Linked DNA regions of Homo sapiens: region 2 is linked to region 1. The links come from fine-mapping of genetic effects on gene expression. Tissue or cell type: whole blood. Region 1 holds a variant in brackets; the other region holds the start of a gene. All regions are shown on one strand. Distances are from middle to middle.

Region 1 (8,109 bases):
TTGTAAACATTTTATTAGATTTTGTTTATTCCTCTCATTTTTCATGAACACGATGGATTCCTTTATGAGTTGAAAGAATTTGTCTGTAAATTTTTCTAAATTTTCCGTTTATATCATCATATAAACTGTGAACAATGGCCATTTAATTTTTTTCTTTCTAAAAGTTATAACTTTTACATTTTCTTCCCTTATTGAAGTGGCTGCTAATAGTAACAGTACTCTAATATAATGTGGAACAGAAGTGTTTAATGCAATCTCCTTATGTTATGATTTTATTTTATTTTATTTTATTTTTTTATTTTATTTTATTTTTTTTTGAGACGGAGTCTCGCTCTGTCGCCCAGGCCGGACTGCGGACTGCAGTGGCGCAATCTCGGCTCACTGCAAGCTCCGCTTCCCGGGTTCACGCCATTCTCCTGCCTCAGCCTCCCGAGTAGCTGGGACTACAGGCGCCCGCCACCGCGCCCGGCTAATTTTTTGTATTTTTAGTAGAGACGGGGTTTCACCTTGTTAGCCAGGATGGTCTCGATCTCCTGACCTCATGATCCACCTGCCTCGGCCTCCCAAAGTGCTGGGATTACAGGCGTGAGCCACCGCGCCCGGCCTATGTTATGATTTTAAATGACACATTATGTATAATGTTTTCGGTATGTATTTAAAAAATTAGGTGGCTTATTATTTTGTATGATGTTTGCTGCAAGTATCTTTAGATATCTTTTTATCAGATTAAGCAGAGTCTCTCCTATTTCTAGATTGATAAAAAAAATTTTCTTCTATTTCTAGATTTGCAAGTGTTGAAATCATGATGAATAGATGTAGAAAGTTATCTGTTTTATTTACATCTACTAAGAAAATTATAGTTTATCTCTTTTAACGAATTATGTTATAATTACATTAATATATGTTCCCATGTTGACCTAACATTTTTTTCCAGGATAAGTTTGGTCATGATATATGTTTTTGTGGACTTTTCTACTTGCAAAATTTTTGGTAAGATTTTTACATTTTCAATTATGAGTAATGTTGGTAAAAATTTTTCCTTTTTTGAATTGCCCATTTCTCTTATGATACCAAAATTATGTTGACTCAATAAAATGAGTTTAATATTTCCTATTTTTCTGCTCTCTGGCCGACTTTCTGAAAGATACATTTTCTCTTTTCTTGAATATTTGGTAGACTTTGTATATAAAACAATGTGGGCCTTGTGTCTTCCTTGTGGGAAGACTTTTAAATGCTGAGTCCACCTCTTTCATGGTTACAAATTAGTCAGGTAGTCTATCTTTCCTTCGGATTTTGTATTTTACGTTTTTCTTCTTTTTTAAAAATTTTTGAGACAAAGTCTCACTCTGTCCCCCAGGCTGGAGTACAGTGGGGCGATCTCAGCTCACTGCAATCTCTGTCTCCTGGATTTAAGTGATTCTCCAGCCTCAGCCTCCAGAGTAGCTGGGATTACAGACACACACCACCACGCCCAGCTAATTTTTGTATTTTTAGTAGAGATGGGGTTTCGCCATGTTGGGCAGGCTGGTCTCAAACTCCTGACCTCAAGCGATCTGCCCGCCTCAGCCTTCCACACTGCTGGGACTACAGGCATGAGCCACTGCGCCTGTCCTGTATTTTACATTTTTCTATGAAAACTTTCACTTCATCATATTCAATAGAAAAGGAAAAAGTTATTCAAAGCAGTTTATCTTACAAATCTCTACTAAATCTTTAGTTGTGCCTTCTTGTTATTTCCTGCCTTGTTTAATTGTGCTGTTTCTCTTTTATTCTTAACTGATGTTGCCAGTTTATCTATTTTAATAACACTTCGAACCGTCTAACTTTAGATGTATTAATGTGCACTATTTGTCTTTATATTTCCATATTTCTATATCTTTAGGATTTCTTCCACTTTCTTTTGCTGTTTTCTGAAATATATATTGATGCCTAATATCAATATTCAGCTATTTCATGCTAATAAGAACATTTAAGCATTAAAGGATATATATATATATATTTTTGAGATGGAGTCTTGCTCTATCGCCCAGGCTGGAGTGCAGTGGCATGATCTCGGCTCACCGCAACCTCCGCCTCCCGGGTTCAAGCAATTCTCCTGCCTCAGCTTCCCAGGTAGCTGGGATTACAGGCACCCGCCACCACACCCGGCTAATTTTTGTATTTTTAGTAGAGACGGGGTTTCACCATTATGGCCAGGCTGGTCTTGAACTCCTGACCTCAGGTGATCCGCCTGTCTTGGCCTTCCAAAGTGCTGGGATTACAGGCGTGAGCCACTGCGCCCGGCCAGATAAAATTTTGACTCAGAAAACTATATTAGTTCTATTTTACACATTATGATAGATTGTAATTTTATTATCATTCAGTTTTAAGAATTTTCTACCTATCACTATGCTTTCTTCAATTTCTCAGTTATTTTAATGTTTAAAAATTTTTCAAACACATAAGAATTTAAACTATCTTTTGCTGTGGTCATTTGACTTTATTAAATTATGATTAGAGAATTTCATGTGCATGATATCTATGTCTGAAAATTTTCTTAAAACCATTGTATGTGTTTATATCTGGTAAAATTTTATAAAAGTTCCAAGTGTGGTAAAAATTAATGTATATTCTACAAACCTGGAGTGCCATCTCCAAAAATACGTTATTTCAGACTTATTAATTTTTAGTTCAAATAGTATATATTCTTACTCATTTTGTCTACTTATTTAATCAATTTTAGAACTCGAAGTATGACCTTTTTTCTTATTTCTGTTGATATTTTCTATGTTTTACATGTATAAGGTACATGTATATATATTTAAAATTTTCATATTCTTATACTGAGTGAACTTATGTTTTTGAAATAACTCTATCCCTAATGCCCTTTTTCTTACAACTTTGTCTTCCTTTTCTTGACACTAATATATCTGTTCAATTCTTCGTGATTAATATTTCTCGAGTATTTTTTATTTTCAATGAATAGCTCATATGTGCTACATTTTTCCTCTTATGAATTGCCATTGAGATTTTTAGTATTTGTCTATTTTTATTTTTATTTTTATTTTTACATTTTTGAGATGGAGTCTTGCTCTGCCACCCAGGCTGGAGCACAGTGGTGCCATCTCGGCTCACTGCAACCTCTGCCTCCTGGGTTCAAGCGATGAGATTTTTAAATCCAGTCTGAGATTCTTTGTCTTTTAACTGGCAAATTCAATCCTTTTAATTGAGTGTGATTCTGGAAGCATTTTAGTTTATGTAAATTTTCCTACTATTTGTAAATCCTTTCTGAAATTTTCTACAGTTTTATTCTGCTTCATGAAGGAGCAACGACGTTTTCTAAAAATGAAGAAACAATTATTTTCTTAGTCCTAGAGTTAATTTCCTTAAGTTTTGTTACGTGTTGAGTTGTGAGTGTTGCACCATGGGGGTATTGTGTGGTGAAGGAAATACTTAATTCTACTGCCTTGAAATTGTAAACT[A/C]TTCTACTTCTGCCTTATCAAATGTTTGGTTTTGTTTTTTATACCTCATCAATCTTTGACTCTCAAAACAAATCATTGAAGCTGGATGGTACTACACAACAATCCCAGACACAAGCTGCTGCTCTACCCTGGGTTACGTATGCACACACCCATTCCTTGCTCCTCCTTCTCCCCACTCACCTCCTATCAATACCTTGGATTCCACCTCATGACTCTGCTCAGCAAGGTGGATGGAACACAATATGCTCCCAGCATTTTCCTGGACTATAATGGAGATCTCCACATCATACAGGCTGTACCCATCTGCATTTGCTCTGGAGTCTGAAGACAAATCCTGTCCTTGTGGACCTTTCCACTTGGCTGTGGGCTGGGGGAACCAGCCTGAGGACAGGCAGAGTAACTGGATACCTCCGTCAACATATCCCACGATGGAAATGAGAGGAAGTGAGCCCAGTGCTGGGAAGAAAACAGGGAAAGATGAAAGCAAAGACCAAATTTCAAGCTTACAGCATTTTGAGTCTGGTTCATCAAGCCTGTACCCATAACACACATACATCCTTTTCTCTCTCTCTCTCTCTCACACACACACATCCTTTTCTCTCTGTCTCTTACACACACATCTTTTTCTCTCTCTCTCTCTTACACACACATCCACTCATGCTACTACTGCAAGCCCTTCCATGGTCTATGTTCATTCAACATTTATTTAGCAGCCACTATATATGCCTGGATATTCCTAAGTATGAAATAGGATGCAGTGAATAAGACACAGCCCCTTCTAATGAGAAACTCATTGATCAAATAGTGAGGAAACTGTATAAAATACATTTCATAGTGAAATGGCAACTATGAAAGCATGGTCAGGTTAGCACAGAGAAGAGTGCTTAACTGTCAGGGAAAGGCACAGCTTCCTGGAGATGACATTTGCACCCTTCTGTGTCAGAAAATAGGAGTTTTGTTGTGGTCAGGTCTGGGAGAGGGGAAGCATTTTAGACAAAAAGAGGCAAGTACAAACCACAATGTGAAAAGTTAACATGCCACAGTGATTTCAAGGACTCATGAATATTTATATTCCAGATGATGTATAAGAGAGTAGGGGTGTGAGACAAGATCTGAAAAAGGCACAAGGCAAGCCGTGGAGGTCATACCTTCACTGACCTGAGCAACGTGGACTTGCCCACAGCCACTTTAAGAACTGTAGACCAGTAAGGCTCTTACCAGCTTCCAGCAGGTGGGAGTTATGGCAAGGCCTGTATGTTAGAGAGGTCTCCAGGCAGCAGCATGGAGGAGGGACCATAGAGAACACTCCGGAGGAGAGTGACCCGCCATGCAACTACTGAAGTGACTCCAGTGAGAGAAAAGAAGGGCTGGGGAGGAGGAGGGCTCTGAGAAGGGGAACGGCAGGTGCAGAATCTATTTGAGAGGTTGAATCAATAGGACTGAACATCAAGGAAGGGTTTATTGTGACATTCAGATTTGTGACTTGGGAAATATGCAAAAGTACCTCTTATGTGGTTGACTTCAATTTTATGATTTAATATTGCCTTTTAACCACTCCAAACAGAACTTCCTCTCTGAGTGTTGTACTCTGTCATTCCCTAGGGTCTGGATCAGTGCATGGAGCCTAATAAATGTTTGTTAGTCAATAAATTAATGAAAGAATGATGGTGGTGTAAGCACCAAGGAAGGGGGCTCAAGTAAGATGATGTAGACTTCTCTTCCTTGCTCCTTTCTCTAAGTAAAATCATAAACCCTAGAAATGCGGCAAGCATAGGTGCATTTTGAAAAGTGGAAAGACTAAGGAGGACTGACTAGGGACCCCAGGAGTAGAAAAAAAACACAGCAGCTGAGCATCCTATGACCACTCCCCCACTCCCACCTCCAGCAGAAGTAGGTGGCCCAGCGGGAATCTTTCCACCCCTAAATGGCTGAAAATACATGATATACAAAGTGGTGCTGGCAAAAGAATTGATCATAAGCCCCATTGACTGGAGACCAGGGGAAGAGTACTTTTTCCCACTATGCCAGATGATCACCTCTCTCACAAGAAACAGTGAGGAGCAACATGGGAAAACACCTTTTACTGCCACAGTTAGTACTAGAAAGGATGAGCAGAATCTCCAGTGACATCAGTTAAGCAAAGTAGACCAAAATAACACAGTAAAGTCTCTGAAAATTAAATTGTATTTGGAGCCACAACCACCAAAAATAGACTAGGACCTGAGTCATAAATCTAAACATGGTGACTGCCTGCAAAACAGAAGCTTTACATAGGGTCTAGAGTATCTTACAATAGTTAAACCATTTAGATTTCAACTAAAAATTACCCATCATACCAAGAACCAATTAAATATCAACTTGAATGAAAATAGACAATCATGTGATTGCCAAGACCAACATGAATAGCTATTATTAAAATGTTTCAAAAAGCAATTATGAATTCTCTCAAAAAATTTAAAAAACAAAAACCATAGATGTTATAAAAAACAAATCAGAAGTAATATAACAGAAAAAAATGCAAAAACAAAAACTAACTGGGTAGCTTCAATGCTAGAGTGGAGATGACAGAAAATAAAATTATTGGCCTGGCATGGTGGCTCAGGCCTGTAATCCCAGCACTTTGGGAGGCCAAGGCGGGTGGATCATGAGATCAGGAGATCAAGACCATCCTGGTTAACACGGTGAAACCCCGTCTCTACTAAAAATACAAAAAAAATTAGCCGGGCGTGGTGGCAGGTGCCTGTAGTTCCAGCTACTCCGGAGGCTGAGGCAGGAGAATGGCGTGAACCCGGAAGGCAGAGCTTGCAGTGAGCGAGATTGCACCACTGCACTCTATCCAGCCTGGGCGACAGAGCGAGACTCCATCTCATAAAAAAAAAAAAAAAATTATTGAACTCCAGGATACAACAATGAAACTTAACCAGCATGAAAAGAGAGGAAAATATTTTTTTAAAGGGAAAAACAGATCCTCAAGGACCTATGAGACAATAACAAAATATCAACATTTATATCATCATAGTCCCAGAAGGAGAGGAGAAAGAGAGAGAGCTGAAAGAGTATTTAAAGAAATGATGGCTGATCTAATCAAATGAGGTGAAAGTCATGAAACTACAGATTCAAGAAGCTGAGAGCACACCAAATAGGAGAAATGTAAAGAAACCCATGCCTTGATAGATCATAATTAAATTTCTGAAAATAAAGAAAACACCAATGACAGCAGATTTTTCGTGAGAAATCTTCAAGGCCAGAAAGAAGTAGCACATTTTTCAACTGCTGAAAGAAAATAACCATCAAGAAACTCAGAAATTCTATATCTGGCAAAACCATTATTCACAAATAAAGAGGAAATCTTTTGCATATTTATTCTCAGATAAACAAAAACTAAGAGAATTTGTCACTAGCAGACCTATCCTAAAAGGATGGCTGGAGGAAATTCTTCAAACAGAAAGGAAATGATAAAAGAAAGAATCTTGGAATATTAGGAAAGAAGAAAAGCAATAGAAAAAGAAGAATAAGGAAAACTACAATAGATTTTCCATTTTATTAGTGTTTAACAATCACATATGTGCTGGGTGTGGTGGCTCACACCTGTAATCCCAGCATTTTGGGAGCCCAAGGCAGGGGATCATTTGAGGCCAGGAGTTTGAGACCAGCTGGCCAACATGGCAGAACCCCATCTCTACTAAAAATACAAAAAAAAATTAGCTGGGTGTGGTGGCGCATGCCTGTAATCTGAGCTACTCAGGAGGCTGAGGTACAAGAGTCACTTGAATCCAGGAGGTGGAGGTTGCAGTGAGCTGAGATCACACCACTGCACTCCAGCCTGGGTGACGGGACAAGACTGTCTCAAAGAAAAATAAAAAATAAAAAATAAAAATGAAAATTATATATGATGGTTTAAACAGAAATTAAGTCACTATCTGATATAGTGCTTATGTATATAGAAGAAATACTCAAGGCAATGTTATTTTTAAATTGTGGAGTTTGAAGGGCTCTGAATGAAAATGAAGTTTCCACACTTCAAAGTGGTAAAATGTTGATATAGTAGATTGTGATAAATTATATATGAATATCATAACACCTAAAGCAGCACCTAAGAAAACACTACAAAATGTTATACTAAAAAAAGACTAACAATAAGTTGTGATGGAATCCTAAAAAAAGTTTAGTAACACACAAGAAGTCAAGAAAAAAGAAGAAAATAAAAGAAATTGAAATATGACAGGCATTATCACTCTCATTTCACCAACATTGGGAGTGGCTTTCCTCTGTATCCTGTCAGGTGGTGGCAGGTGCAGGTGGCTGTCTTCTGCATCATGATCCCACCTGTGTGATGGCAGGGCCAGGCTCATCTCCAGAAACCTCAGGTCAGTGATCCCCACCGAAGCCTTTTTACATCATGTCAGAATCTGGAAAGTCTGTTTTATTTCATTATCTGAAATACTTTTAAGAGCTGATAATGGTAGCATGACTTTACAAGACAACTCAGTCATAAATAAACAACTGACCTGCCACCCGCAGCTCCCAGGTGGCCTCCTCATCGTAAATCTGGGAACTGAACCAGCACCCATACAGGCCGATGTCCGAGGGAGTGATGTTTTTTAGCCTTAGAGAGACACGCCCCCCTGCAATGGAGTCCTTCACAAAC
Region 2 (8,109 bases), 98 kb after region 1:
CACACGTATGTTTATTGCGGCACTATTCACAATAGCAAAGACTTGGAACCAACCCAAATGTCCAACAATGATAGACTAGATTAAGAAAATGTGACACATATACACCATGGAATACTATGCAGCCATAAAAAATGATGAGTTCATGTCCTTTGTAGGGACATGGATGAAATTAGAAATCATCATTCTCAGTAAACTATCGCAAGAACAAAAAACCAAACACCGCATATTCTCACTCATAGGTGGGAATTGAACAATGAGATCACATGGACACAGGAAGGGGAATATCACACTCTGGGGACGTTGTGGGGTAGGGGGAGGGGGGAGGGATAGCATCGGGAGATATACCTAATGCTAGATGACGAGTTAGTGGGTGCAGCGCACCAGCATGGCACATGTATACATATGTAACTAACCTGCACAATGTGCACATGTACCCTAAAACTTAAAGTATAAAAGCAAAAACAAAAAAAAAAACCCTTTATAGTGTGACCTACTCAGGGCTCCATTGGGCTGGGCTGGAGATGTGCATCAGGGGGAAACATTCATCACAATCCTATTTCTAAAGCCAGTGACTTGCATTTGTGTATCTCCTTACATTTGACAAACCATGTCCACATCAGTTACTTCATTCGATCTTGAGGAGCACCTGCAGAAATGTGTATTATTAATGTTTTTATTTTTAAGATGAGAAAACCATGTTATCCAGAGGAAAAAGTCTCTTTCTGAATGTAGACCCTTTGATTCCAGGAGGTTCTATTGCCACATTCTCTCCCATCTGCCCATTTGCTTCAATTAAAAAAAAAACCCAAACATCCCCATTTCCATCGTCCTTGCTGAAAACCAAAGTTGACGTCTTTCTAATGGCCCAGAGAAGAGTATGGGCCATAAAGTCTCCAGTTTGCGGCAATTCGTTAAGGTTTCCTTCAAGCACAATATTATATCAATATTTTATGGCTACTATAGAGGAATGTTACATTTCTGCCCATGGCGCACACAATTATTTGTACTTCCTTAGTTTTTTTTGAAAATCTGCTTGTTCTGCCAAGTTCTGAAAGACATGCTGTGACACTGAAACAAGATTTTGCAGTCTGTTTTCTGTAAATTTGTTCTTTAGCACGTTCACGTGTGACTTATATTTTCCATAGCATGTGCCTTTTACGCTTGTGTAGTAATTTTTTCCACTTTATTTTAGCACTGAAAGGTGGTTCGCCTAGTGCTTTGTCAACATGTCTTGCCTTCATTTTTTTTAAAAAAAATTCTTGGTACATGTATGTCCTCACCTCGCTTTTGAAACTTTCTTCATTGTCTTGCTTCAAGTGTGACAATTACATGTTTTCTGTGAGCCTCCCCTGCACAGCTCTTGGCTCTCTGGGGACAGGGCCTGATTTTCTTGCTCAGCATAGTACCCACTTGATCAGCACAGAGCCAGTCACACAGAACAGGCTCCACAGTTATGCATGTGAACGGTGAGCCCCATTTCCTTTCTTACTTGCTCATCTGTTTAACAATCATTTGAGTAATTTTCCTGGTGTAAATCACTCTTACTACCCTGTAAGGATTACACTGCTTCTTAGAGACCACAGACTATGGAGGCCCACTCCCTTCACCTTCTAAGTACCCACCCCCTTTGACTGGCAGTGTCTCTTGATTCATTCACATGTATCCATTTATGGTATATGGATATACCTGTGTGTGCTGTCTGCATGTGCATCAGAGGGAAGGTGAATTACATGTGTGAATTTCTAGATCAGTGGATACTTTTTCATTTTAGCACTAATTTTTTAGTTTAATTACATTTTATAAATCTTGCTGAAATGTATTTCACTCATGCATCTTTAAGAGTATTATTAAATGAGGCATGACTTTGCAGCCTGGTGTCTGACCAGCTTCTGACCTGGTGTAGCAGATGTTGAGGCCCTGCTCCTCACCACCCAACCCTGAGTCCCCCTGCAGTGGGATGGGCATTTCCCTGCCTGCTGACAGCTCCGTCCCTGGAGCCTGGCCTCTGCCTCTCTGCTGAGGGCTTCCTGCCACCCTTGGAACCTACTTAGCCCTGGCACAAGGCAGCTCAGAAGGTTTGCGATTTTAGCAGTCCTGGGCGGCACATCTCACCCAGTGGGGAAAGGAGACAGTAGATGTTGGAATGACTCTGAGCCACCATCTATAAAGTTCCTCCAAAGGTCCCAGTGGGACTGGGTCCCAGTTGCCACCGCAGCAACGCTCATTAGCGCACCCTCTATGGCTTTCCCCCTACTGGCTTCACTCTCTCCACTCCCTCACTTTGTTTCCCAGAATCACCTGCTCAACGAATCACTGGCAGGAAGGCCCTTGTCTTAGGTCAGGTTTGGGGACCCAGCGTATGCCAGCTGGGCTGCTATGGATGCTGCCTTCAGGGCTGTGTGGGGCTCTTGAGGCAAGGAAACATTTTTCAGGGTACCTCCATTTCTCCGGCCAGCCCTTGCTGCTGTCACCTCTCTTGCCTATAACATCTCCTTTCACTCCTTCCACTTCCTTCCCTTGAAAATAAGAAAGGAACAAGACTGTTGCTGCAACATGCCATGCACCCGTGCAGCTGTGTGCACTCTACATGCACAAGCTCATGCAGTCCTCACCACAGCCCCAGCAGGAATGTGATCGTATCTCCATGTCATCATAAGCAAACCAACACCTAAGGAAGCTGTGAACAATAAAGCTCACAAGAAAATGAAATAAGAGTTTTTAAAAATAAAATGTTTCTGTCTCCAAGATCATTTCCAGGATGTCCTGCTGCCTCACCCGGAAACAGAAGGGAAACAAAGAAGCTCGTCAGAAAATAAATGAAAACAAACTGAAACGAGAGCGTCTCCTGTTAGTAACACATATGGGTTTTTGTTTTAAGGAAACATGCTCTATGTTTTGATTGCCCTTATTTCTGTTTTCTTAGCTTCATTTAGCAAAAAAGATATAGGTGGACAGGTGGCAGGATGAACCTTCACAGACAGAAAGTGAACACAGTCAATCGAATCTTCTGTGGCTGGGTACTGACCATCTAGCCACCAGCATTCTACCCCAACCTCAAGCTTCCTCTGTGAATTGTATTCAGTCACTCAACATCCTATATACTAGGTTCTGTGTTAACAGTAACTGGAAGGAGAAAGAAGAGTGGATTTCTTCCCAGAATATGCCAGGTTTCAGCTAATTTCTCACCTCAAGACCTGTACACCTTCCTCCACCCTCGTGTCTCATACCACAGACATTTCTAACTCAGCATGTCTTTAGCTGGATACATTGTCTTTTCCCCAAAAATCCTAACTGTGTCTCTTCCCAGATGGACATCCATGTCAGCAACCTTGGTGCTCCAATAACCCTGCCTACACCACTCAGCCCATCTGGGAGAAACACTGAATTTATTCACCTTAACACGTTAGGTGTGTCCCCGTCAACGATCACGGTGCGTCTTCAACACCCGTGTTTCCATTATTTGGGGGCTACTATAATTGTTTCCACAGCGCCTGATCCTTCCCCAGGCTGAGGCTAGGAGAAGCCAAAGGAATGGAAACGACAAAGATGCCTTCATTCCATTATGCTGCAACCATTGTAGCTAAAGAACTCAAACTGTTAGTTAGTAAGGAGGAAACAAAGATGAGTCTTACCTGATCCCAGCTTGAGGAGACTCAGAACCAAACTGAGCATGAGAGCCATGGATGTGTTCTGTGAATGGACCTCACGGCATGGAAACGGATGACAGGAGAGGTGACGGATGGATTAGAGAGAAGAGGAGAACTGGCCTAATGCTCAAGGTGCGGAAGCCACGGAGAGGCTCTGCGTGAGCGGAGGGCAAACTGCGCTGTTCTGAGAGTCTACTCCATCGAGACACAGCTGTCATGTACCAGAAGTGTAGGGACTCTAGACTTTGAACCACTGCATAAATGTCTATATCTTATCAAGGAAGCAAAGATAGAAATAGTGTGGATAAGATTGGAGGTGAACTTTGTCCTGGGCAAAACGATGCCCTGTGTGGGTGAAACAGGAATGTCAGATGCGGAAATACTTTTCACGTCCAATCTGGCAGGCAGGGCTGTATGGCCATGGGATCTAGTCCTGAAAAACCTCATGTTAGCACTGGATAGTTTGGTGTCCAAGTAAATAGGCCATGCTCCATTAGTAGTAGCCTACAGCAGGTGACTTGACATTTCCTGGCACAGTCTGAGGTCCTTTTGCTTACCCCTCCATTCTCTGAAGTTCAGGGCCAGGACTGTAATCATGAGGCCAGATAAAAATAACTTTCCAGAACAAAACAGATCCTTAGTGTTAAACATCTGATACATTGGGAAAGGTGCCTGGGCAGGTTCAGACATGAGGAAACTTATTTATTATATAAACTAAGTTCCAGGGCAGCCACAATGAGAGATTTGCAGTCTTTTTAAGCACACGGAAACTCACAAAGTCACCACTTAACTAGATCAGAATGAAAATTTCCACAGATAACCATCAAAATAAACATACTCTAATCATAATGCAATTAAAATTAAAAAGTAATTCAAAAACATAGGAAACTCTATACACTAAGAAATTCTTATGTAACAATTTAAAACAACTCACGAGACTAAATCACAATAAAAGTTAGCATCTAGAATAGGACAAAATGAAAACACTGCATTTAGTCTAAAATCTAGAACACTGACAACACCAAATGCTGGTGAGGATGCGGAGCAACAGGAATTCTCACTGATTGCTGACAGGAATGCAAGACGGTACGGTTGTTCTAGAAGACAGTTCAGCAATTTCCTGCAAAATTAAACATACTTTTATCACCTAATCCAGCAACTGCACTGCTTTTTATTCACCTAAATGACTTGAAAACATATGTCCACATGAAAAATTGCACATGAATGTTTATAGCAGCTTTATTCATAATTGCCAAAAATGTTTGCAACCAGATATCATTCAATAATGATACATAGAATGTATACACAAACTATGGTACATCTATACAATGGAATATTACTCTGTGATAAAAAAAAAAAGGAAATGAGTTGTTGAATGTTGTAAGCAAGAGAGTAGAATAGAAAATTATTGATCTCATGCTGTCTCAGAAATACAGATTTACCAAGGATATATAGACCAAAATACCTTTTTATGAAGCTGCTGAGAAGGCACAGTATCCTCTCCATTCCAGTGGCAGCTATGCCCCACCCATGGCCATTCGAAGCCTAGGCCTAGGCCCAGTGGAACGGTCATGACCCAGGCTTCTGAACCTACAGGCTGCTCTGGCCCCCAAGGACCAAACAGTCCAACCCAGCAAGGAAGCCAAGCCTGGCCTGGTGAAGCAGTTGTACCCTCTCAAGCATGAGCCAAGCACCTTGACCCCAGAGAAGCATGCGCAATAGAATGGCAACAATACCCCCTTGTGTGCACACTAACTGGGGGCCCCAGACTCAGCCCCAGGAAAGCAATGTCTGAGATGGTGGAGCAGCTGTGCTCCCTTGGCACATAAAGCGGCCTGGTGCCCCACCTCCAGAAAAGCTATGCCCAAGCCAGAACACTGGTCTTATTCCCTCAGCACACAAACCAGCCCTGCATCCCACCCGAGGGAAGCTGTACCTGAGCTGGTGGAGTAGTTGTGCTCTCTTGGTGCCTGAGCTCAGTGTAATCTACTTTGCTACCACCACTCCCACAAATTACTGCAGTACGGGCCACTGAGGCATCCACTTGTCACTGACATTGATTATAGCTGAGAAGCTTCACAGAGACTACGCTACTGTGCCAGCCAGAAGCAGAGCCGATACACCCTACTCAGCACCCGAGGACCTATCAACAAGTGAAAGTTTTTTCTTAGAAAAGCTACTTTATAAGTTAGGAGAGGCAAATGTTCTACCAGATGCACATATATCAACACAGGGACACAAGAAACATGAAAAAGCAAAGAAACATGACTCTCCCCAAAAAGGCTGAGGCAGGAAAATCACTTGAATCTGAGAGGTGGAGGTTGCAGTGAGCCGAGATCGTGCCACTGCACTCCAGCCTGGTTGACAGAGTGAGACTCCATCTCAAAATAATAATAATAATAATAATAATAATAATAATAATATAACATTTTTAAAAGTCAGCAAGATTTGAACTAGAAATACCATTTGACCCAGCCATCCCATTCCTGGGCACATACCCAAAGGATTATAAAACATGCTGCTATAAAGACACATGCACACGTATGTTTATTGCGACACTATTCACAATAGCAAAGACTTGGAACCAACCCAAATGTCCAACAATGATAGACTGGATTAAGAAAATGTGGCACATATACACCATGGAATACTATGAAGCCATAAAAAATGATGAGTTCATGTCCTTTGTAGGGACATGGATGAAATTAGAAATCATCATTCTCAGTAAACTATCGCAAGGACAAAAAACCAAACACTGCATGTTCTCACTCATAGGTGGGAATCAAACAATGAGAACATGTGGACACAGGAAGGGGAACATCACACACCGGGGCCTGTTGTGGGGTGGGGGGAGGGGGGAGGGATAGCATTAGGAGATATACCTAATGTTAAATGACGAGTTACTGGGTGCAGCACACCAACATGGCACATGTATACATATGTAACAAACCTGCACGTTGTGCACATGTACCATAAAACTTAAAGTATAATTAAAAAAATAAAAAATAAATAAAAAATAAAAAGTCAGCAAGATTCAAGATAATATAGATAGACTATTGAAAGAAATCAGGAAAAAAAAATCATGGTATAAATTAGAAATTCAGCAAAGAAATAGACATCAAGAAAAATTAAACAGATGTCTTGCCATTAGATTATTCAATGAAGGAAATGAAAAAATACAATAGAGAGCTTCAATGGCAGACTAGATCAAGCTTAAGGACAAAAATAAAGTGAAAAGAAAGAATTTTTTCATGCAAACGGTAAAAAAAGAAAGCAGGGGTGACTATATTTATGTCAGATAAAGTAGGCCAGAAGTCAAAAACTGTTACAAGAGACTAAGATTGTCTTTAAGTAATAATAAGCAAATAAGTTAATCAGACTGTAACAATTATAAATATGCAACCAACATCAAGGTGTGTAAACATATAAAGCAAATATTAGTGGACATGAGGAAAACATAGCAAAACAAAAATACTGGGGAATTTCAATACCCCTTTATTATTATTATTATTATATTTTAAGTTCTGGGATACATGTGCAGGAAGTGCAGGTTTAGGTATATATGTGCCATGGTGGTTTGCTGCACCCATCAAACTATCATCAACATTATGTAATTCTCCTAATGCTACCCCTCCCTCCCCTAGCTCCCTACCCTCCGACAGGCCCTGGTGTGTGATGTTCCCCTCCCTGTGTCCATGTGTTCTCATTGTTCAACTCCCACTTATGAGTGAGAACATGCACTGTTTGGTTTTCTGTTCTTGTGTTAGTTTGCTGAGAATGATGGTGTCCAGCTTCACCCATGTCTCTGCAAAGGACATGAACTCATCCTTTTTTATGGCTGCATAGTATTCCATAGTATATATGTGCCACATTTTCTTTATCCAGCCTATCATTGATGGGCATTTGGGTTGGTTCCAAGTCTTTGCTATTGTGAACAGTGTCACAATAAACATATGTGTACATGTGTCTTTATAGTAGAATGATTTGTAATCCTTTGGGTATATACAGTAATGGGATTGCTGAGTCAAATGGTGTTTCTTGTTCTAGATCCTTGAGGAATCGCCACACTGTCTTCCACAATGGTTGAACTAATTTACACTCCTACCAACAGGCTAAAAGCATTCCTATTTCTTCACATCCTCTCCAGCATCTGTCATTTCCTGACTTTTTAATGATCACCATTCTCACTGGCACAAGATGGTATCTCATTGTGGTTTTGATTTACATTTCTCTAATGACCAGTGATAATGAGCTTTTTTTCATGTTTGTTGGCCATATAAATGTGTTCTTTTGAGAGGTGTCTGTTCATATCCTTCACCCACTTTTTGATCAGATTTTTTTTTCTTGTAGATTTGTTTAACTTCTTTGTAGATTCTGGATATTAGCCCTTTGTCAGATGGATAGATTGCAAAAATGTTCTCGCATTCTGTAGGTTACCTGTGCACTCTGATGATCATTTCTT

What was found. PIP is the estimated chance that this variant, and not a neighbour inherited with it, causes the effect.
Region 2: BTNL8 starts here. The variant in region 1 is fine-mapped to the expression of BTNL8 in whole blood (GTEx, PIP above 0.99).

Annotation. Positions count from the first base shown.
Region 1 is chr5:180,993,021-181,001,129 of GRCh38, reverse strand. It overlaps BTNL3 (butyrophilin like 3), which reads right to left. Exons shown (of 8, transcript NM_197975.3): 2 at 7,970-8,109; 3 at 3,642-3,917. Among named protein-coding and RNA genes, the nearest start is that of BTNL3, 8.2 kb to the right of the region's middle. The variant A/C (reference allele first, on the strand shown) is at 3,462.
Region 2 is chr5:180,894,883-180,902,991 of GRCh38, reverse strand. It overlaps BTNL8 (butyrophilin like 8), which reads right to left and starts at 3,833. Exons shown (of 8, transcript NM_001040462.3): 1 at 3,633-3,833. The coding sequence starts at 3,681.